Linked DNA regions of Homo sapiens. The gene in region 3 interacts genetically with the main gene of each other region. Each region holds a gene or a part of one and is shown on either strand. Other genes may lie near its edges. The genes, in order: SEC24B, TRAPPC11, MTF2 and TBL1XR1.

The links.
Region 1: changes in MTF2 (region 3) and SEC24B together harm fitness more than expected from each alone (negative genetic interaction), as found in Homo sapiens cells (one large-scale study listed by BioGRID).
Region 2: changes in MTF2 (region 3) and TRAPPC11 together harm fitness more than expected from each alone (negative genetic interaction), as found in Homo sapiens cells (one large-scale study listed by BioGRID).
Region 4: changes in MTF2 (region 3) and TBL1XR1 together harm fitness less than expected from each alone (positive genetic interaction), as found in Homo sapiens cells (one large-scale study listed by BioGRID).

What each region holds. Positions count from the first base shown.
Region 1 is NC_000004.12:109,519,640-109,525,408, reverse strand, and holds part of SEC24B (protein transport protein Sec24B), read right to left. Parts: intron 5,044-5,769; coding exon 4,925-5,043; intron 4,293-4,924; coding exon 4,237-4,292; intron 3,990-4,236; coding exon 3,783-3,989; intron 592-3,782; coding exon 468-591; intron 64-467; coding exon 1-63. UniProt on the Homo sapiens protein: Component of the coat protein complex II (COPII) which promotes the formation of transport vesicles from the endoplasmic reticulum (ER).
Region 2 is NC_000004.12:183,688,685-183,694,453, forward strand, and holds part of TRAPPC11 (trafficking protein particle complex subunit 11), read left to right. Parts: intron 1-2,631; coding exon 2,632-2,787; intron 2,788-4,275; coding exon 4,276-4,463; intron 4,464-4,904; coding exon 4,905-5,053; intron 5,054-5,232; coding exon 5,233-5,354; intron 5,355-5,769. UniProt on the Homo sapiens protein: Involved in endoplasmic reticulum to Golgi apparatus trafficking at a very early stage.
Region 3 is NC_000001.11:93,084,889-93,090,657, reverse strand, and holds part of MTF2 (metal-response element-binding transcription factor 2), read right to left. Parts: intron 1-5,769. UniProt on the Homo sapiens protein: Polycomb group (PcG) protein that specifically binds histone H3 trimethylated at 'Lys-36' (H3K36me3) and recruits the PRC2 complex, thus enhancing PRC2 H3K27me3 methylation activity.
Region 4 is NC_000003.12:177,050,935-177,056,703, forward strand, and holds part of TBL1XR1 (F-box-like/WD repeat-containing protein TBL1XR1), read right to left. Parts: intron 2,985-5,769; coding exon 2,839-2,984; intron 793-2,838; coding exon 570-792; intron 1-569. UniProt on the Homo sapiens protein: F-box-like protein involved in the recruitment of the ubiquitin/19S proteasome complex to nuclear receptor-regulated transcription units. Plays an essential role in transcription activation mediated by nuclear receptors.

The DNA.
Region 1 (5,769 bases), on a different chromosome or scaffold from region 3:
TGTGAGTATAGTGGAATGATGGATAATAATAGATGCACCCTGCAGAATACTTGGACATGCAAGCTTTAGAGAGAAATACAAAAAGTATTAGCTATAGAAATAATAATATTTTACTTGTCCAACAGTAGTACAGATTCTACATTATGAAGAAATCTAAGTCATGAGAAAACCTAAGCCATCAAAATAAGAACATACAAATCTGAGAAAACAGTAATATCTATAAAATATATGATAAAGTTTACTGTTGAGCAGAATGGTAAGGGAATCATGCTATCTAAACAAAATACAAGTGACATTTTATATTTGTATAGTGCTTTAAACTTTACTGGTAGTTTTCATAGATATTGTCTATCTAATGCACATGCTTTTCTCCCTAAAATATAGAGAATGCTTACTGAAGAGTTTAGATTTAATTATGCATTAAAAATGTTCATTTAAACAAATGTACCCATGATGACTTTCCTTACCTAGAGAAGCAAGATCAGAATACTGTGAACTTAAAAGGAACAAATCCACTGCAGTTTGCTGTCCCGAGCAATCTAATGCAAGTTTCTTATAAAAATCAGTTGCAGGGCCAAGATGTTGTACCACCTAAGTCAACAGATCATATAGTAAGAGCTAGCAATCTTTATGCTCATATTTTCATGTCATTTTTATAACAAAAAGGATATCCTCTGCCTCCCTACCAAACTAAGAGTTTTCTAAATGTCTAGGCATTTGGTGCAGATTCCCTATGATAATAATAATGATAGATAATCTTTATAAAAAACACTTATGTGCCAGCACTGTTTCACACAAATTAATTTTCATAACACATCTCATATGGTTTTTATCATCTACATTTTCAGACGAAGAAACTGAGGCAATAACTGATTAAGTAACTTGACCAAGATTACATAGATATTGAGAAGTGGATATTGGAATATCAACCCAAGAAATCTGGCTGCAGAATGAGTGCTGTTAACCATTATTAAATATTGTTAAATAACTTAAGAGAGTAAAAGATTAAGGAAGGTGTTTCTTTTGGTATGAGAAGACTTGAGCTGAGAAGGTGACACTGGAGAGAGTCTCCAAGTTCTTAATCATCATACAACATTTCCTAAAAAAAAGTTTCAATCCTCTTAATTACACTGTATGATGATTATATTAGAGCTTACTCTAATATAAGGAATTAAGGATATGAAGGAATATGTAAACCAGAACAGATACTGAAACTTTAGAGTCCTAGGCAGACAGATAGAGAATATTTTTGAAAGTTAAATGAGAAAACAAAACAAATCAAAACAAAGCTCTATCAAAGGATTCAGTAAATATATATCAGCTTCCTGTGTTCAAAACACCACAGTAATTTATAATGGATTGTAATGGGTCAACGAACTAAATGCCAGCTACACTTGTTGATGAGTTTAAAATACATACTTATTTTAAAATTAGCTTCCTTCTCAAATGCAATTTTAAAATACAATTTCTATAAAGGGTGAAATATGGTGCCTTTTTTTCTCTAGCATATTGGTGAAGAATAAAAAAAGCAATGCTACTTAATGGTGGTTACAGGATGAGAGTCCTTAAGAAGAGAAGTTGATTAAAAAACCCAAATAAACAAAACATTCTTTATTTAATAACTTAAAGATTATGCCCTTTAACCCAATAATTTCACTTCTAGGAATTTATCCTAAGGCAAATCTGGATATGTGGCTAAAGATTTATGACACTATTAAAACTGTTTAATTCATACTCATAACTACTTATAATGATATTTTCTCAAATATGTTAAGGCCAGACAGAACTTGTACAAAAGAAAAATGAATATTTTTGTTCATTTATTATTTGAAATAGGGCTTAAAAATGCCTGACCAAATCTTCACATAAAACCCAAGTAATGTTCAGCTTCGTATATTCCTTTCATTGTTATTATTATTATTGTTTTTCTTTTTTTTTGAGACCGGGTCTCGCTCTGTTGCCCAGGCTGGAGTGCAGTGGCAGTGATCACAGCTCGCTGCAAACTCTGCCTCCCTGGTTCAAGTGATTCTCCTGCCTCAGCCATCTGAGTAGCTGGGATTACAGGCTTGCATCACCGCACCCAGCTAATTTTTGTATTTTTAGGAGAGATGGGGTTTTGCAATGTTGGCCAGACTGGTCTCAAACTCCTGAACTCAAGTGATCCACCCACCTTTGCCTCCCAAAGTGCCGGGATTATAGGTGTGAGCCACTGCACCCGGCCATTATTGTTATTTTTTAAGATAGGGTCTCGTTACATTGCCCAAGCTGGTTTAGAACTCCTAAGCTCAAATGATCCTCTAGCCTCAGCCTCTTGAGTAGCTAAGGTAACAGGCAGGTGCTACCACACCCAGCCCTTTTTTAAAAAAAAAATAGTGCAAATACAGGTCTGGCTCACATCTGCAATCCCAGCACTTTGCAGGGCTGAGGTAGGGGTATTGCTTGATCTCGGCAGTTTGAGGCCAGCCTGGGCAACACAGCAAGATGTTGTCTCTACTTTTAAAAAACAAAAGAAAAAAATACTGAAGACAACTATTTAATAGCTGAAAAGCAATCAATTGATTACTTTCACATTTACTTTCTCTGTGACTTCAGAGAATGCGCACAATATATTCTCCAATGAAAAAGGTCAAACACACACACATATATATACACACACACACGTATGATGTCCAATTATGCTTATTTGTATGTTTGTATAACTAAATGCTAGTATCGTTAGATTATTGGTGATTTATGCTTTTCTCCACTTTCCAAGTGTTATACAATGATCTGTGTTATCTTCATAATTAAAAAGTTTATTAGTATGAGCATGTTGAATTACAATAGTTACATTTAGTAAGTTTTACCACTTACGTAATAGAAAAGAACACTGGAGTCAGAAAATCAAGTTGCACTTTTACCATTAAATAGTTATTTAACCTTTAACTAGACACTCTACTTCCTCATCTATAAAATGAAAAAGTTAGACTAAATGATTTCTAAATTTCTATGACTTACAAAGTATAAAAAGAACATACTGTGACACAAAACCAAAAAGATAATTTGAGTTAAAAACTCTCGCCGGGCACGGTGGCTCACGCCTGTAATCCCAGCACTTTGGGAGGCTGAAGTGGGCGGATCACGAGGTCAGCAGATTGAGACCATCCTGGTTAACACTGTGAAACCCTGTCTCTACTAAAAACACAAAAAAATTAGCCAGGTGTGGTGGCAGGCGCCTGTAGTCCCAGCTACTAGGGAGGCTGAGGCAGGAGAATGGCGTGAACCCGAAGGCAGAGCTTGCAGTGAGCTGAGAGCGCGCCACTGCACTCCAGCCTGGGCGACAGAGCAAGACTCCGTCTCAAAAAAAAAAAACAAAAACAAAACAAAAAACTCTCAGGCAGCCGGGCGCAGTAGCTCATGCCTGTAATCCCAGCACTTTGGGAGGCTGAGGCAGGCGGATCACCAGGCCAGGAGTTCGAGACCAGCCTGACCAACATGGTGAAACCCCCGTCTCTACTAAAAATACAAAAATTAGCCGGGTGTGGTGGTGCACGCCTGTAATCCCAGCTACTCAGGAGGCTGAAGCAGGAGAATCGCTTGAACCTGGGAAGCAGAGGTTGCAGTGAGACAAGATCGCGCCACTGCGCTCCAGCCTGGGCAACAGTGTGAGACCACGTCTCAAAAAAGAAACAAAAAACAAACAAAAAAACCCAACTCTCTTGCCAGTATTTTATTATTAATGAAATAGAATAAACAAATAATTACACAATCTTGAATATGACAAAAAACTAAACATAAAATACCTTTGTACTTGATCTCTGATTAGGATCTTCTCTGGATTGCAGAAGTCCTGCACCCAAGGAAGGTAACTGTGTCTGAAATACAGACACACGGCCACCTGTTGGAGACATTAATTTAAAGGCAGCCTGAAGTGCAGGACCAAGGGCACTGTGTGTTTCTCTTGTATTGGTGAACATGTTTGGTAATGCATTCAGTAAGTCTTTTATAAGCTGAGAAAACAAAGATCAAAAATTGAATTACTGAGAAGGCAAAGGAATAATCTTATTTTAAAACATTCCATAGTGTATCATGTGTCACTGTATTTCTGGGGACTGGAAACTGAGGAGTCAATAGATATGCCATTTATATTGTCTATTATTTGTAATACTAATATATCAAGTAAACAAATGTTAAATATTTTAGTTACCAGTCACAATATAAATATTTTTATGCTTTAAGAAAATAAATCAATCTTACCTCTTTACTTTCATATAGATTCACAAGTAAACTATCCGGTGTAGGTAGAAAAACATCTATAGGGAAAACACATATTTTAATCAACAAATCGAACAAAAGAATACATTAGAAAATCTTAGTTTTTATCAGGTCATACATGTAATGTGTACTATAATTTTGCTTTATTTTATTTATTTTTTTGAGATGGAGTTTTGCTCTTGTTGCCCAGGCTGGAGTGCAATGGCATGATCTCGGCTCACTGCAACCTCCACCTCCCGGGTTCAAGCGATTCTCCTGCCTCAGCCTCCTGAGTAGCTGGGATTACAGGCATGCGCCACAACGCCTAGCTAATTTTGCATTTTTAGCAGAGACGGGGTTTCTCCATGTTAGTTAGGCTGGTCTCGAACTCCTGACCTCAGGTGATCCACCCACCTCAGCCTCCCAAAGTGCTGGTATTACAGGCTTCAGCCACTGCGCCCAGCTAATATTGCTTTATTAAATATACACACTCTGTATATATTATACATACATGTGTGTAATACATAGGCATAACTTAGAATCAAGTATTTCCAGAAAAACAATTATTTTGAACAAATACTAAAGTGCATGACATTATCCTCACAGCATATAGCAAGGTGTATATTAAAATAAAGTAGCCCCCATTTCAAAGTCCGTAGTTAGAAAGGCTTTTATTTTACTGACTGCTTACCATCTATATCAGACACAATCAACATTTGAGGCTGTGATAATCCTTCTTGTAAATTGTAGAAATGAATAGTGCTATCAAAGGTCATGAATCCTATTCTTGTTCGTGAATCTCCAGGAAGCCTAAAGATAAAAATGACAATTTTAAATTCAGAGTGCTCAGTAACATATTTCATTTCAGAAAATAATGAAATAGTAATTTAAGTCCAAGGATAATTACACATATGCTTTTCTACAGGGGACAGAAAAATTATCCCTATCTAAACAAATATATATCAGAGAAGAAGACCAAGGTGAAAACTTACTTCCAGTTCCAATATTAGAACAATAGTATATCTTGCTTAAGCATTTTAAGGGCAGAATGACAAATAAGTACTTTCCAAGAAAAGATTGAATATACTGCAAATCAGATTTTAATGTGTAAAATTTTACACAAAAACCACATTTATGAACACTGAAACATTTTATCTATCATTAATCTTTTAAAATGCTGTTAGAGCTGTTTTCAAAAGTCGATGCTACAATACAAAGAAAAAATTACCATTTCACTGCCTGTCAAGCTTTCTTTATTAATAAGATAGATGCCTCATCTCACAGAAGCATATTACTAAGTACTACCAACTATGTTAACTTCAGTTATGTAATTTATTGTTTTAGCAATGCCTTTAAAATATCTTTGGATACTACAGGATGCCAAAATAGAATATGCATCGAAGCAAGAAGCATTATCACTGCTATGGATGACTGATCAGGGTATTAAGATATAGTCTGCAAGGTGGGTCAAGAGCATTTCAGAGAACAGAAAGCTACAAGTTATGTGGATGTTCAGCTTACCAGTATGGTGAATAT
Region 2 (5,769 bases), on a different chromosome or scaffold from region 3:
CCCAGGGATTTCCTCTAATCCGTTTGAGAATTTTATTTTAGTGTGTGTGCGTGTGTGTGTGTGTGTTTGTGTGTGTTTTGAGACAAGGCTGCACTCTATCTCCCAGGCTGGAGTGCAGTGGCACCATCTTGAGTTACTGCAGCCTTAGTCTCCCAGGCTCAAGTGATCCTCCCACCTCAGCCTCCTCTGAGTAGCTGGGACTACAGGCACATGCCACCATGCCCAGCTAATTTTTGTATTTTTTTATAGAGATGGAGTGTTGCTCAGGCTGGTCTTGAACTGCTGGGCTCAAGGAGCCCACCCACCTCAGCCTCCCAAAGTGCTGGGATTACAGGTGTGAGCCATCATGCCTGGCCCAGTTTGAGAATTTTAAAGCAAGAGCATGCAATTTATTCTTAAAGTTTTAAGAAACTTTATTCTAGTAGCAAAATAGAAATAATATCATGGAAGCCAATTAGAGGCTCTTTATATTAATCCATGTACAAAAGTACAAGTATCGGAATTGAGTTGCTGGTGTTGGGAATGGAGATTCAGGGATATAAGAGGCATTTAAAAATAGATAAATCTGGATTGCCAAGTGCATATAGCGGCTGAAAAGTGGGGATAGGATGAATGAAGGACAGGAGGTTTTGTACATGCCCTTTCCTCTGCTTGAATTGGTTTGCCCTCCTCTCCGACTACTTCATTCCTTCTTGCCTTTTCTCACTTAAAAGCATCACTTCTTCAGGGAAGCCTCCCCTGACTTACATGACTGAATCACTTAGCCAGGCTCTCATAGCCTTGGTAGTACTAATCACACTGTGGTTTCACCGTTGTCTGTGTGATTATTTGGTAAATTACCTGTTTTTCCTTACTGGAATCTAAGCTCCACAAGGGCAGAAGGGCAGGGGTTTTTTTTGTTTGTTTGTTTTGTTCATTATGAAATTAGAGGGTCAACACAAGGACTCTTTTTTTTTTTTTTTTAAAGAGATACTTTGTTGCCCAGGCTGGAGTGCAGTGATGTGATCATAACTCATCTCAGCCTCAAACTCCTGGGCTCAAGTGAAGTATGGGGACTCTTATTTTACTTTTCCCTTAATAGCCTACTATTTCATTTCTTTTCTTTCCTTTTTTTTTTCAACAAAAAATATAAGCTACTATAATTAAAAACTAATAACGCTAAAATGGAATATAAAGCAATTAGTTTTAAAATTTAGATTATATTCTGAATATATCTTATTTGAAATTTAAGATACAGGCGGGGCGCAGTGGCTCACGCCTGTAATCCCAGCACTTTGGGAGGCCAAGGTGGGCGGATCACTGGAGGTCAGGAGTTCAAGACCAGCCTGGCCAACATGGTGAAACCCCATCTCTACTAAAAACCCAAAAATTAGCTGAGCGTGGTGGCGGGTGCCTGTAGTCTCAGCTACTTGGGAGGCTGAGGCATGAGAATTGCTTGAACCTGAGAGGCGGAGGTTGTAGTGAGCTGAAATTGCATTTCTAGTGGGCGATGGAGTGAGACTCCGTCTTAAAAGAAAAGAAATTCACAATATAAACCATAAGAAAAAAAAAAGTAGAGTAGTTTTTATAAGCATGGAATAGAAATGAAAATTGGCGGGAAAGTATAATACTTGAACTGTGTAAGAATTTCTATGAAGGTAATTTATATGCTGGAATAGAAGATGGCTCTTGGAAAGGTCTTGATATTTATTGAACAGATGAGAATAGTGATTCCATAGATAGAAACATGAAAGCTGTCTTCCTTTACTCATCTATGAGGATTGTTCTCTTCTGGGAAGGCAGATGCACATTCACTTTGGGACGTGCTGAGTTTCAGTGGTAGTGGACTTGTCCTCTAGACAGTTGTGGATATAAGCTTGTAATTAAGGAAATAAGACAGAATAGGACAACTGTATGTGAGAGATACTAGCAACAATGGTATGGTGAACGTGGAAACAAATACATTTCCAATGAAGTGAACAGAGAGAGAAATGAAGACCTGAAAGAAAGCAAAGGAATGGGGCTGGGCTTGGTGGCTCACACCTGTAATCCCAACACTTTTGAAGGCTGAGGCAGGAGGATCACTTGAGCCCAGGAAGTTTGAAACCAGCTTGGGCAACGTAGTGAGACCCCATCTCTACAAAAAATAGAAAAATTAGTCTAGTGTGATCGTACATGCCTATGGTCCCAGCTACTTTGGAGGCTGAGGTGGGACTATCCCTTGGGTCCAAAAGGTTGAGGCTACAGTGAGCCGAGATCATGCCACTGCACTCCAGGTAGGAAAAACAGGAAGTAACCAAGCAGGATGAGAAACAGGAAAGATTATAGCATCACAGAAGCCAAGTAAAAAAAGGCTCTTCAAGAAAAGGAGGTGATAAACAGTAGTGTCCAGTGCAACAAAGAACAAACTGTTTCTCTGGGAGAGGGATAGCTAAATATTTTCAGAAAACAGTTTATGTGTAGTGAACTGTTATATTATGGCAGCAGTAAGTGGATAAATGCCTCTATTTGGCATAAAAAATACTTCCTTTTATTAGTAACCCTTCATAATGCTTCAGTGTTTGTGGAGTTATACTAAATGAGCTCCAAAGCACTTGGCATTTAGGGTTAGCAGACATCTGACATTTGATGACCCCTGTTCACCTTTTTCAGGAATACAACCAGTTCTGTGTAATAGAAGAAGCATCCAAAGCAAATGAAGTTTTAGAAAATCTGACTCAAGGAAAGATGTGCCTAGTTCCTGGCAAAACAAGAAAACTGTTATTTAAGTTTGTTGCAAAAACTGAAGATGTGGGAAAGAAAATTGAGGTTAGTTATGAAATTTGTTTTAAAATATTTTTAATAATAAAAGTATGTTTATATCAATATTTTAAATAATACAAAAGTTGATTAAGTAAAAAATGAAAATCTGCTACTTGGACTTCCTAAAGGAAACCATTCATAATAGTTTGGGAAGTTTCCTTCAGACATTTTTCTGTGAACATACTTGTAGTTTAAAATTTTTTGCAATTAAAAAATTGAGAATATACTGTACATAATAAACTGTAGCTGGCTTTTGTCATTTAATAGTGTATATTAGATATTATTTCTTGTTAGTATATAAACCAATCTTGTTTTTTAATGACCACATAATCAGTTAAGGAGTTTTAAATAATGTATATTATGTAATATAGCAAATATATTTTTTATGTTATTCAGACTGAATATCTTTTGATGTTTAAGCATTACTGAGTACATATTTTTAAAGAAAAATGAACATATATATTTGTAAAGATTGATATAGTATAGATAATTGAAATGCCTTTTAGAAATATAGGATCTAAGTAATATCTTTATTGAGCATAAACTCTGGAGCCAAACTGTATGGGTTTAAATTACAGCTCTCTAGCTTATTAGCTTGTGGCCCTGGGCAGTTACTTAGCTTCTTTGTGTCTCAGTGTATTCATCTGTAAAATGGGGATCATAAGAGTACTAATCTCTTAGGATTTCATGAGGATTAAATCAGCTAGTTAATGTAACTTGCTTGGAATAGTGATTAGCACACAGTAAGCATTCATTAAGTGCTTGTTTTTCATGACTTGAATGGGAATGGTTAGCTCATCTAAACTTGGGACCATTGCTAAGATAAATGGCATATAAAGTTATACAACCAGTGTTCCCATAACAGTTTCTGTGAACATGTTGCTTTTATTATTTGCTTATTCATTAAAAAAAAAAAAACTTTCATGATTTTGACTAAATGCCCTAATTGCATATTTTATTTTTTCATGGTACCTAAGGGAACCTACCAGACATAAATAATAATTAGTAATTCTATTTTGAGTCCTTTTGTTAATGGTTTTAGTTGAATAGATCATGTATTCAATTAATAAAGCATTTTATTGCTAATACTGTAAATATTTTTGAGAAAAATATTTGTGGAGTCGGAAATGAGGTTATAATGTATCCATAGCCATCACAATACTTATTTCATTCAGCAACCACTAATTGAACCTTCATTACATCAGGGACTATGCCAGATGTTAAAATCATAACACTACTGTGCAATCAGCCTGTCAACAGAAAGTCAGGTTAGTGTCTCTGTTTTAAAGGTGAAGAAGTTGGAACCCAGAGCGCAGTTAGTCTCTGTCCCAGCCCGAGTAAGACCTCTAATAGCAGGTGTTCTCACTTCTGTCACACTGGGGGTCTCTAGATGAACTCCATGGTCTTAGCAGTCGACGATGTAATTTTGGTGAGAGGAGATGGTGACAAGCACATATGAGATGACATTTCCAACATCCTTTTTTTTCTTTTTAGATTACTTCAGTGGATCTTGCTCTGGGCAATGAGACGGGAAGATGTGTGGTTTTAAATTGGCAGGGAGGAGGAGGAGATGCTGCTTCCTCCCAAGAAGCCTTACAGGCAGCTCGGTCTTTCAAAAGGCGACCTAAGCTACCTGACAATGAAGTTCACTGGGACAGCATTATAATTCAGGCAAGCACAATGTAAGTCTGCTTTGCTAAGCTGATATTAAAGGTCATCCTCTTATTTCTTTTGCTATTTTTTTTGGAGACAGAGTCTCTCTCTTGTCCAGGCTGGAGTGCAGTGGTGTGATCACGACTCACTGTAGCCTTGACCACCTGAGCTCAAACCATCCTCCCACCTCAGGCGCTACCCTTGCCTTCCCCAGTAGTTGGGACTACAGCCAGGTGCCACCATGCCTGACTAATTTTTGTATTTTTTCTAGAGATGAGGGTCTTACTATGCTGCCCAGCCTTGTTTCAAACTCCTGGGCTCAAGCGATCCTCCTGCCTCAGTCTCCCAAAATGCTGGGATTACAGGCCTGAGCCTCTGCACCCAGCCTCTTATTTCTTTTAAATACTTTATTTGAATAATTTATTTGCTTTTTTTTTGATCAGTTACTTAGCTAAGGTTTCTTTTCAAAGGATCATATCCAGAGTCCCAAACATTTCTGTACATCTGCTACATGAACCCCCTGCACTGACTAATGAAATGTATTGTTTGGTTGTGACTGTTCAGTCCCATGAAAAGACCCAAATCAGAGATGTGAAGCTCACCGCTGGCTTAAAACCAGGTAAGCATTCCTTTTTGTAAGTTTGATCAGTATTAATCCAACATTAAATAAGCATCAGTGATGTCAACTCTAGGACTTTTGTTTACAAGAGGGTATGGCATAGTGCTCTTCACACAGTATTGATTATTGGGATAATGTTTGAATTCTTTGTTTTGAAGAACCAATATTAACTCTTTTAGGACAGGATGCCAATTTAACTCAGAAGACTCACGTGACTCTTCATGGAACAGAACTGTGTGATGAATCCTACCCGGCTTTACTCACTGACATTCCTGTTGGAGACTTACATCCAGGGGAACAGGTAAACTTGGTCAACTGGGATTGAAGAGGAAATCAATTAGTTTGTAGTTTTAAATATATAGTGAGTTTTTAACAGTTCAGAGCGTTTTAACGCATATTCTAGGACTGAAAAAGTGATTTAACTAATGAACATTTCATACACATTTTACATACGTAAATGTGTAAAATGTCTTAAGCAGTTTTTCTACAAGGGAATTTAGAAAACATGCTTAACATGAATTAGTGGGCTAATAAAATACCCATTGTTTGTAACTTAGTGCAGTTAACTTCTCAGTCAACTTCTGCTTCCAAACTAGATAGAAAAATATTTTGGAAGTTAAAGAACAATAATTTCTAAAAGATGCAGTAGTAATGATCCCACCCTTATACTGTGGCCACAGTGTAATCAGAGTACTCTACTACAGTGGGAGCATTGA
Region 3 (5,769 bases):
AAATAACGTAACCAAGAATATTCATATTCCAACAATCCTACTCTCTTACTTTCATACACTGATGATTAAACCTGAATCTTCTGTGTAAAAGATATATTAAAAGTACAGTCAGTCAGGCACAGTGGCTCATGCCTGTAATCCCAGCACTTTGGGAGGCCAAGGCAGGCAGATCACCTGAGGTCAGGAATTCGAGACCCTCCTGGCCAGCATGGAGAAACCCCCATCTCTACTAAAAATACAAAAATTGGCCAGGCGCAGTGGCTCACGCCTGTAATCCCAACACTTTGGGAGGTCAAGGCAGGCAGATCACCTGAGGTCAGGAATTCAAGACCCGCCTGGCCAGCATGGAGAAATCCCCATCTCTACTAAAAATACAAAAATTGGCCAGGCATGGTGGCTCACACCTGTAATCCCAGCACTTTGGGAGGCTGAGGCGGGTGGATCACGAGGTCAGGAGATGGAGACCATCCTGTCTAACACGGTGAAACCCCGTCTCTACTAAAAATACAAAAAATTAGCCGGGCGTGATGGCGGGTGCCTGTAGTCCCAGCTACTCAGGAGGCTGAGGCAGGAGAATGACGTGAACTCGGGAGGCGGAGCTTGCAGTGAGCCGAGATCGTGCTACCGCGCTCCAGCCCGGGGGACAGAGCGAGACTCCATCTCAAAAAAGAAAAAAAATTAGCCAGGTGTGGTGGTGCACACCTGAGATCCCAGCTACTCTGGAAGCTGAGGTTGCAGTGAGCAAAGATTGCGCCACTGCACTCCAGCCTCGGTGACAGAGTGAGACTCTGTCTCAAAAAAAAAAAAAGGAAAATCAAGCTATTAATACTGGGGAGGCTGAGACAGGAACATCCCTTGAGGCTGGGAGTTCAAGACCAGCCTGGGCAACATAACGAGATCCCCATACACAGACACAATCTCTAAAACAATGAAAATATTAAGCCAGGCATAGCGGTGAGAGCATGTAGTCCCAACTACCTGGGAGGCTGAAGTGTGAAGATATCCTGGGCCCAGGAGTTCAAACGCTACCGTGATACAGTGAAGTACGAGAGCTGTGATTGTACCACTGCACTCTTGAGAGGCTCCATCTTTCTTTTTTTTTAAAGGCAGAATCAAACAATTTTCTAGAAATTTACAATCTAATAACTCCATGTAAACAAGTGGAATTTGCATTTTGAATTACAATTGAAAGTAAACATTTTGCTCATCACTGGAACTCTAAAACTTTTCAAGGTATGGCATAAAGTAGGGACTTAAAAATCTCTCTTGAATAAACTAATCAAAGTCTGTATTTATCAATACACACACTAGTAAGTAAATCCTCCATTTATCAAGCAAATATCACTATCCTATAAAAGCACATATTCTATTACAGAGACCCAAATTTATTTATGTATTTATCTAGAATTAAAAAGCCAAAAAAGCTCTTACAAATTTTACTTAATTTCACCTCACTTGAAAATTGCAACTAAAAGCAGAGGCAAATTCTCCTCCCCAACCTCAAGTTCAGCCTGAGCCCCCTAGAATTAAAAATAGCTTAACCACCTAACAGGTTAGAGAATGAACAGAGGTGTTTACAATGTCAGTGACTGTGGCTTTAGTACTCTTCATGAAATTACAGAAAATATTTTTAAATATCTTAAAATGTACGATAAAAAGTCAGTTTTATAGAACATCTTTGTATGTTTGTGTTTCTACCAAAAGCATGTATTTTTGTGATCACAAAAAAACTTTTATAAACTATAAAAAATACAGATCTTAAGATTTTTTTAAAAATTGTAAATGAGGTTGGGCATGGTGGTTCATGCCTGTAATCCCAGCACTCCACTCTGGTAGGCTGAGGCAGGCAGATCACTTGAGGTCAGGAGTTCCATACCAGCCTGGCCAACGTGGTGAAACACCATCTCTACCAAAAAACACAAAAATTAGCCAGGCACGTTGGCACACAGCTGTAATCCCAGCTACTTGGGTGGCTGAAGCATGAGAATTGCTTGAACCCAGGAGGCAGAGGTTGCAGTGAGCCGAGATCGCACCACTGCATTCCCGCCTGGGCAAGAAAGTGAGATTCTGTCTCAAAAAAAAATTGTAAATGACACTGTTAAATATAATATATCAAGTATTTTCAAAATGGTAAATACCAAACATTTAGAAACAGTAATAGATTTCAAAAATATATCTGATTTTTTTAAAAGCCAATATGACAACTGGTAAAATCTTTACATCACAATACCCATAGCCATCTAAATTATTTGTGCAAAAGGAATCCTTGATTATATTATCTCACATATACAATGAATAATAAAGAAAGGTTAACTACAGACTTAAAACACCAAAACCAACAAGGCCACTAATATACATTAAAACCACAGATAAATGTGAATTAAGTACAGGTACATACATTCATGTTCAAGTCCAGAATTTATAAAGTTGATTACACTACATAAAATGAGCCTCCACTAACAATTCAGGCAAGGATGAACTGGAAAGTTCAGCGTTGTCATTATAATCCTGCAGACTCTGGTCCTAAGACCAACGAGAAAAAAATAAGAGAACTGAGGGGCTCTTGCTGCAAGCCACTAACTATACCCTAGAGTTTTAAAAGTTCCAATTACTATAAACAAAAGTATGAACTGGATCTTTGGTAGGTAGTAGAGCATATGGATGATAAGGGCTTGAAAATATCTTCATCTTGCTATACTGCTTAACTTTCTCAAAAGCATTCATATCTCATTTTCTCCTCCTAATAATGCCATAGAATAGGAAGGGAAGACTACTGTTTAACAAGTGAAAAATCTGGAACTCAGAAGTAAAATTACTTCCTTAAAGTTGTAAAGAAAGATAGGTAATACCTGGCTCTACTATGGTAAACCCCAGTTAAGTGATACTATTTCTGAGACAAAGTTATTCTAGATATTTGTCACCTTTGGATCCCAATTATGAACCGAGGTCACATACAGTGGGGAAGGCCAAGAATATTTTCAGATTTAGCAACTGGTGAATGAAATCAGGCCATTCACTGCCAGTATCGACAGTATCCAGCCTCTTGTCCACAGTATATTTTGCCATTAAGGCTTTTTTTTTTTTTTGAGACAGAGTCTCACTCTGTTGCCCAGGCTGCCATGCAATGGTACCATCTCCGCTCACTGCAACCTCTGCCTCCTGGGTTCAAGCAATTCTCCTGCCTCAGCCTCCTGAGTAGCTGGGATTACAGGTGCGTGCCACCACGCCTGGCTAATTTTTGCATTTTTAGTAGAGATGGGGTTTTACCGTGTTGGTCACGCTGGTTTTGAACTCCCGACCTCAGGTGATCCACCCACCTCGGCCTCCCAAAGTGCTGGGATTACAGGCGTGAGCCACCACACCCAGCCTTAAGGCCTTTTTTATAAGTCTAACTGAAGTCATCTATCAGTGATGAAATGATGCATTCCTACAGATGGTTCAACTTGGTTGTTAAGTGTCCTCAGATACTAATACAAGTTGAGCATCCCTAACCTGAAAGTCCAAAATCTGAAATGCTTCAAAATCTGAAACTTTCTAAGCATCAACCACACATGAAAAATTCCACATCTGACCTCGTAACAGGTTGTAGTCAAAACGCAGGTGGCACAACACAGTTTATTCAGTGTCCCGAACGAAAAAATAAGCTTTAGACTAAGCATACAACGTGTGTATGAAACATAAATGAATTTTGTGTTTAAACTTGGGTCTCATCCCCAAGACATCTCATTTGTATATGCAAATAAGCCTAAAATCCTAAAACCCTTCTGGTCCCAAGCATTTCAAATAAGGGATATTCAACCTGTAGCTGTCTGCCCAATTTTGAAACAACAAGAAAAAGTTCAAAGACAGCTGCCTGTAGTATACATTTTCAAAGCTCTGTATTTATCACATAGATAAATACAAAAGGACTTTATAAATAGTTCTTCAAACACCAACAAAACTGGGAAACTAACATAATTACTAGGCTGAAAAAGCTACAAGTCAAATATGATATATTAGTTTTCTTCTCCCACAGGAATATGTCTTTGCATCTCAAGATTCACCCGGGGCTGCCTATCAATTATTCACAAACCAAGATCTTTTCCACCCAAGGCATTCATACATATTGTACCTACTACCAAAATTGCCCTTCTTCCTCATCTTTTTTTTTTTTTTTTTTTTGAGACAGTCTCGCTCTGTCACCCAGGATGGAGTGCAGTGGTGCAATCTCAGCTCACTGCAGCCCCCGCCTCCTGGGTTCAAGTGAACCTCAGCCTCCTGAGTAGCTGAGATTACAGACATGTGCCACCACACCTGGCTAAATTTTTTGTATTTTTAGTAGAGACAGGGTTTCACTATGTTGGCCCAGCTGGTCTCAAACTCCTGGCCTCAAGCGATCCGCCCGCCTCAGCCTCTCAAAGTGCTAGGATTACAGGCGTGAGCCAATGCACCCGGCCTCCTCCTTCATTATTTACATAGTTGATCCTTCCTTCTAAGCATAGTCATGTGCTACACAGTAAAACTTTGGTCAACGACAGATTACATATACAGCAGTGGTCCCATAAGATTATAATGGAGCTGAAAAATTCATATTACCCAGTGACTTTGTAACCACTGTAATGCAATGCTTTACAATGTGTTTGCAGTGATGTTGGTATAAAACAAACCTACTGCACTGCCAGTAGCATAAAGTCTTGCACATATACTCATTATGTACAATACATAATACTGATAACAAACGACTGTGTTACTGGTTTATGTATATGCTATTTAGTTGTCCCTTGGTATCCACAAGGCACTGGTCACAGAACCTCCTGAGGATACCAAAATCCACAGATACTCAAGTTCTGCAGTGTGACCCATAGAACCTATGGATGCTAAAAGTTGGCCCTGGCTGGGCCCAAGTGGCATGCCTGTAATCCCAGCACCTAAGGAGGCCAAGGCAGGAGGATTGTTTGAGGCCAGGAGTTCAAGAATAGCATGGGCAACATACCAAGACCCCGTTTCTACAGAATATTTTAAAAATTAGCCAGGTGTGGTGGCATGCACTTGTAGTCCTAGCTACTCAGGAGGCTGAGGTGGAAGGATCACTTGAGCCCGGGAGTTTGAGGGTACAGTGAGCTATGATCACGCCACTGCACTCCAGCCTGGGCAACAGAGAGACCCTGTCTCTTTTAATGAAGAAAAAAAAAAAAAAAAAAAGGCCGGGTGCAGTGGCTCACGCCTGTAATCCCAGCACTTTGGGAAGCCACGAAGGGCGCATCATGAGGTCAGGAGATCGAGACCATCCTGGCCAACATGGTGAAACCCCGTCTCTACTAAAAAATACAAAAAAATTAGCCGGGCATGGTGGTGGGCATCTGTAGTCCCAGCTATTCATGAGGCTGAGGCAGGAGAATGACATGAACCTGGGAGGCGGAGCTTGCACTGAGCCGAGATGGTGCCACTGCACTCCAGCCTGGACTCCGTTTCAAAAAAAAAAAAAGAAAGAAAGAAAAGAAAAAAGGTAATGTAATTAGGATCCATAACTATACTATAATGACAATGCTTTGAAATTTTAAAAGTATTTTTAGTACTAGATAAGCACTTCACAAACTACCCTTCTATCTCCCTGATTATGGGAGAATTCTTTAACTACTATCAAAAAATCCTCAGAACTGAGAATCAACAGAGGGGCTCAAGTACTGATAAGAACTTTAAATTAAATGAGGATAGGAGAAAGTGATGCTTTATCTTATCAAGGAAAATGGTTTACTTTGTTTCTATATGTTCAAAGTATTTCTTTTAATA
Region 4 (5,769 bases), on a different chromosome or scaffold from region 3:
GTTTCTGCCAGTAGGGGTTGCTGATATCATTCATATAACATGAGTTGCCTTTTATCTCGATGTCAGAGCTCTATGGTTATTTGTTGATAACTAGTATTACAAATTTTATTTAGAAATCAAATGTAGATGTAAAAATTCATTTAACAATGGGAAAAGGGTTTCTAGATATTTTAAAAAGAAAATAAAAGTAAATCTAGCTTTTTGGAGCTTTAGGAATAAAAATCTGAATTGAACTGTGTGATACAAGTTAGGGAAACAAGTTGGTGCAAGTTAACAGATGAAATTATTTCAGCATAGAAGATGGGGCATTTCTTCTGAGAAAAAATTTTTAAAAATTCTTGTCTCCTGGGACCTTCCTGGGGGGTGGAGGGTGGGAGGAAGAGGAGGATCAGAAAAAATAACTATTGGGCACTAGGCTTAGTACCTGGGTGATGAAATAGTCTGTACAACAAACCCCTGTGATATGAGTTCATCTATATAACAAACCTGCACATGTACCCCGAATTAAAAGTTTAAAAAAATAAATAAATAAACCATGTAATTAAAAAAAAATTCTTGTCTGAGCTCACTTGCTATAGTATGTGCTCCATTCTCCTCCCCATTTGCTGTGTTTTCTCCATTTTTTGCAGATCCTTGTTGGCTGGCTGCAGCTGCGGCAGCTGCAGCAGCTGCTGCCTGTTGCTGTGCAAGCTTATCTCTATAAGCTTGTTGTCTTGTTTGTACTACATCAGGCATTACGGCATCTATCAGGGACAGAGACTCTATTGGTCGACCATCAAACAAGGTACCATCCTGGATTTGGAAAATTGTGAGAGAAGAAAAATCAAAGGCAATATTTAAAGTTATTTGTATTTATACAAAATCAGAAATGAAATGAAAATCTTCGTTCCTAAAAAAACATTTTTAGGAACTTTCTGAATTCATATAAGAAGTCCGGAGGGAATAAAGAAACTACAAGCAGCAACTGGAAATGACTGCTTACATTTTCCTTTTCATTTAATTCATACTATTATTACAGTATAGAGCTGTACAGATAGAGCTGAAATGAAAGAGATAATAAGATGTAGGCCGAGCTGATAAAAAGGCTTATTAATTAGATTCTGAAATTCTGTTAGTCAAAGCAACAAACAATATGGAATATAGTTCATATAATGATCAGAGGCCTGGTGCCCCATTATAGTAAATACATCTTTTAAAAAACTAAAAACTTTGAGCTGAAGAGTTTCTTGTGATTTGATTCAAATATTAAAGCAGAAACAGACTTCATGGGGCTATAGTGCTCTTGAATATTAGGGAGTTATTAAAATTTCCAAAGCTCTACTTATTGATATTAGGAAGTTCCTAATAAAGAGTTCTCCAAGTAAGCACAAGAAGAGACACAAACACAGAACAAGTCAGAAATACAAACAGTACAAATTAGCTGGGAACATGCATATGTGAAGTCTGGTTCACTTAAACTGGTAAACATGTACCAGTGACAATCTACAGTGTTATTGCAGGGTACTGTGAGCTGCAAAAACACAGCCTGTCTTTCTAAACTGTCCATTGTAATGTAATATTTCAGGAACAGGAGAAAGTATTTTAACTTATAAATAATTTTTAAGATACTAAACCCAACACAGATACACTGTGGAATAAGCGCCATGTCAAATTTACACACATTTTAAGAAAAAATTTAGTTTTGCGTTACTGGATGGTCACTCAAAGAGCTGAGGAAACAAACAAATCCATTTTAGTATATTATGTAATTTCTAATTCTAGTAATAATCATTGATACAGAAATCATAGATACTTCAGTTTAAAAATACTCGCAAAAGGGGAACATGTTAATCTCTGAAATAGAAGTAATGGGAAAAGCTCCTCACTATAGATAAAAATTTTAAACTAGGCTGGGCGTGGTGGCTCATGCCTGTAATTCCAGCACTTTGGGAGGCCGAGGTGGGCAGATTACCTGAGGTCAGGAGTCAAGACCAGCCTGGCCAACATGGGGAAACCCTGTCTCTACAAAAATTCAAAAATTAGCTGGGCATGGTGGTGGGTGCCTATAATCCCAGCTGCTAAGGAGGCAGAGGCAGGACAATCGCTTGAACCCAGGAGGCGGAGGTTGCAGTGAGCTGAGATTGTGCCACCACACTCCAGCCTGGGCAACAGAGCGAGATTCCGTCACACACAAAACAAAACAAAACAAAAAACAAAAACAACATTTTAAACTAGACCGGGGTTTACAACCTTTTTCTGTAAAAGAGTAGACAGTAAATATTAATTTAGGCTCTGCAGGCCATAAGGTCTCTGTCTCAACTACTATTATGCCATAAGTAGCCATGGACAATATGTAAATGCATGTGGCTATGTTCCAATCAAACTTTATTGAGAAAAACAGGGAGGAGCATTTGGCTAATGGGCCACAGTATGCTGACCCCTAAGCCAAACAAACTACTCACATGTAGTCCTTAGATAGGCAGTACCATCCAGAGTTGGCTTCAATTACAAACTGGTTTAAATTTGGGTATATTCAAATAACGTGAGAATTTACAATTTTCAGGCCAATAATTATGATCTTAGCATTCCACAGCACAATGCTGTTGTGTTAATAAAAATTCTTTATTAGTGTTTACTTACACAAACAGATTAAGGCAAACAAACTACAGATAATGGTCCTTACAACTAGGCGCCAACACCTTGCCGGTGCAACCTGACTACCACATTAGGGATGAACTGCCTGCACTTTTGTTAACCCTGTGAAGCTAAAGTCAGAATACTGAATAAGCAAGCAAGACAGCTGACTTAACGGCATATTTAAGATGAAAAAAATCAGTATTTGAAATAAGTCTTCCTTACCTCATTAATACTAACTTCTGCTTCTACATACTGTAGACCTTTCTGGATGATAGAAATCAATGCAGCGGGTGGGACGAGGGCACCATTTATATTGGACTGACTGATATGGCTTTCTATACCAAAGGTAAATGCTGAATGAGAAAATCCTAAAAACAAAAGAAAAGGCATGAGAATTTATTTTCCTAGTGGCAACATGCTAAATGACACAGAAAGAAAGATCACCATCATCTTTTCAAATCCCATCCTACCCATTTAAAATCCCAGACGAAGGTCGTGTGTGTGTGTGTGTGTGTGTGTGTGTGCGCGCGCGTGTGTGTGCATGTAAACATGTCAGCCTTTACATACTTTCTTTTTCTCTTAATGTACTCTTTAAAATTTCTAGTAAATACTTGATTATATAGCTTCAAATTTTCTAAAATGTCATGGTACACAACTTTTCTTAACAAAAAGCATCAAATGTAAAAGGTAAAACAAGTCTTTGGAAATCATATAATTAAATTGCTTCATTTAAATCAGGCCAAGACAGATTAAGGGACATTTAATATTTCTGTATTATATTTTAATATTTTTTACATCTAGAATTAAGGAACTTTATTTCAAATTTTCTTTCATCCCAGCCCAGTTCAAGTATTCAGCATCTCTCAAAAGTGGTACACATAATATGCTTTAAATAGGAATTCATTCATTCTGAATGATCTTCATTTACTTCATGTAATTGTTATCTACTACGTAGTTATAATTCAATAATGTCTGTAAAGCAATCTAGCACTCAGGTAAAATCTGAAGTATTTAAATTTCTACATATAAATTGTCAAACATCTGATAAATTCAGTATTTTGGAGCTCTTTGGAACTACTTAGGAAAACTAAAATAATAAAAATAAATTCAAATATTAAAAAATCATAACGGTTAAATCTCATTTTATGTATGAATTAAGTGCTTTAAAAATACCAATTCTTTGCCACTTAGTAATAACTCATCTATATGAAATATTTAAGAAATGAACAGCTAGCAAATGATTACCTGGTTTATAGGTCTCCATCAGCAATTACTTACTCTTAACTTGAAATACTTAAAACCAAAGCACTTACTTAATAAAAATCTCTTTATGTTGGCCTTGCTTTTTATTAATATCTAGTCAAAATTCAAAGGTAAAATTCTAAGAAGCTGATAAACCAAGGGTGGTTATTTTCTTTACTGAAATATTAATCACCATTTATCATTAAGTAGTAATTTCTATGAAGTATTTTAAACAATTCAATTAAATTGTACAAGTAATATAGAATATTAATAAACATTTATACTAAACAAAGGAAATAAATACAGGCTTATTTTGGGTCTTGGTTAAACTGATTTAATCTATATAGTATGTCTGTTGGCTAGCCTGTCTAGCCTAGTTTTTTAGTGTTTAGTAATGTCTTTTTTGGATTTTGTGCTTCCACTCTTATACTCCTTGTGGTACTTATAAACAGTCTAGTAGAAAATACTGTGGGCTCACAATTTCCTAGCATGTGGCTAGGAAAATTTGGTTATTTGATAGTCAGAGTACACCTAAGTTGATTTTCCTTGTAACCCCTTCCTTCTCTCTTTGGAACACCTAACTCATTATGCTCACAACATCTAACCCACAGTGGAAAAGGCAAGTGGAAAAATGTTACCTCTAAAACCTTGATTTTAGCCCCTGATTTTGCCCATAAGCAAGATCATAATTAAATGCATTTATAGTTTTCATAGTTTTCACCTTAATCTGGGCTCACAGAGATACCAATCGGGGGGCGGGGCGGGGGTGGGGGGGTGGGGGCGGAGAAGCACCGTTTTGAATTGTCCCTATCAGGAAGCCCACAACTATCTGAATATGAGTAGATTCCAGATCACCAAGGCAGAAAACAGAATAAGGATGAGGGAGGATGGGGAGAAACAATGAGAGACATAGCAGTAAAATCCTTAAGCAGTGAGGTTGGAGATTCCTGTTTTCAATTATATAACCCCTCCCTGAATAAATTCACAGTAAATCATCCATAGTAAAAACAGCCAAACGCCAAGCAGCTTAAGAGATTTAAGAAAACTTCAAGACAGAAGACATCATTTACAGAGGGCCTATACCATATGCTAGATACTGTGTACACACATATAATTTTATTATTTTATAATCTAATGGAAAATCACAACTAATAAATGAGAAAGTACAGATTCAAATTCATTCAGAGACTCTACTACTCCTCTTGAACAGTTAAAATATGGTCAAGGATAAAGCTAAGGGAGAGAGTGAGCTCCTGTTTCCTGATAGAAAGTAAAAGACTACATCACTGTTTTGTTTTCATCTCAGGGTCCTGGAAAGTGGTTGCACAGTGCATGAAACACTGAGCCATCTTATTGCCATATTTACTGCCAAGGTTTTGAAAGTGTCTTGACTTATGTAATGCTTATAAATTTGTTTGAAGTACATGATTTCTGTATACTTTATTCATGACTGCAATTTAAATAGTCAAAATTGTTAAATTTGGACCCTATTTAATTAGCTTATAGAGTTTAAGTTTAAAGTAATAATATGTCCAAGAATAGTCTAAGACTTGCAGGTGGAACTGTGCCAATTTCTGGCTGGAATGTTGCAGATATCCTGAATTTGTTCTGTCAGACCAGGAGAAAAACTATCACAGGTGCTTACATGCATCTCAAGGTACTGCAGATGTACTTAGGATGCTCTCAAATAGCAATGAAACATCCCTGAAGTAGTCATTAGCATTGTTTTGGCACTTCTCACTAATGTTTACCCTAGAGAAGTTCCAAACTTAAATGCTCTGCTTAAATGTTGAATTCAACTAGAATATTTTCTTTATTTCTAGCCATGGCATTACATAGCAGTTTAAAATTACTATGTTCAAAATCAATTTTCTTCTTCCCCTCCCTAAAACTACTTTTCCTTAGAAACTT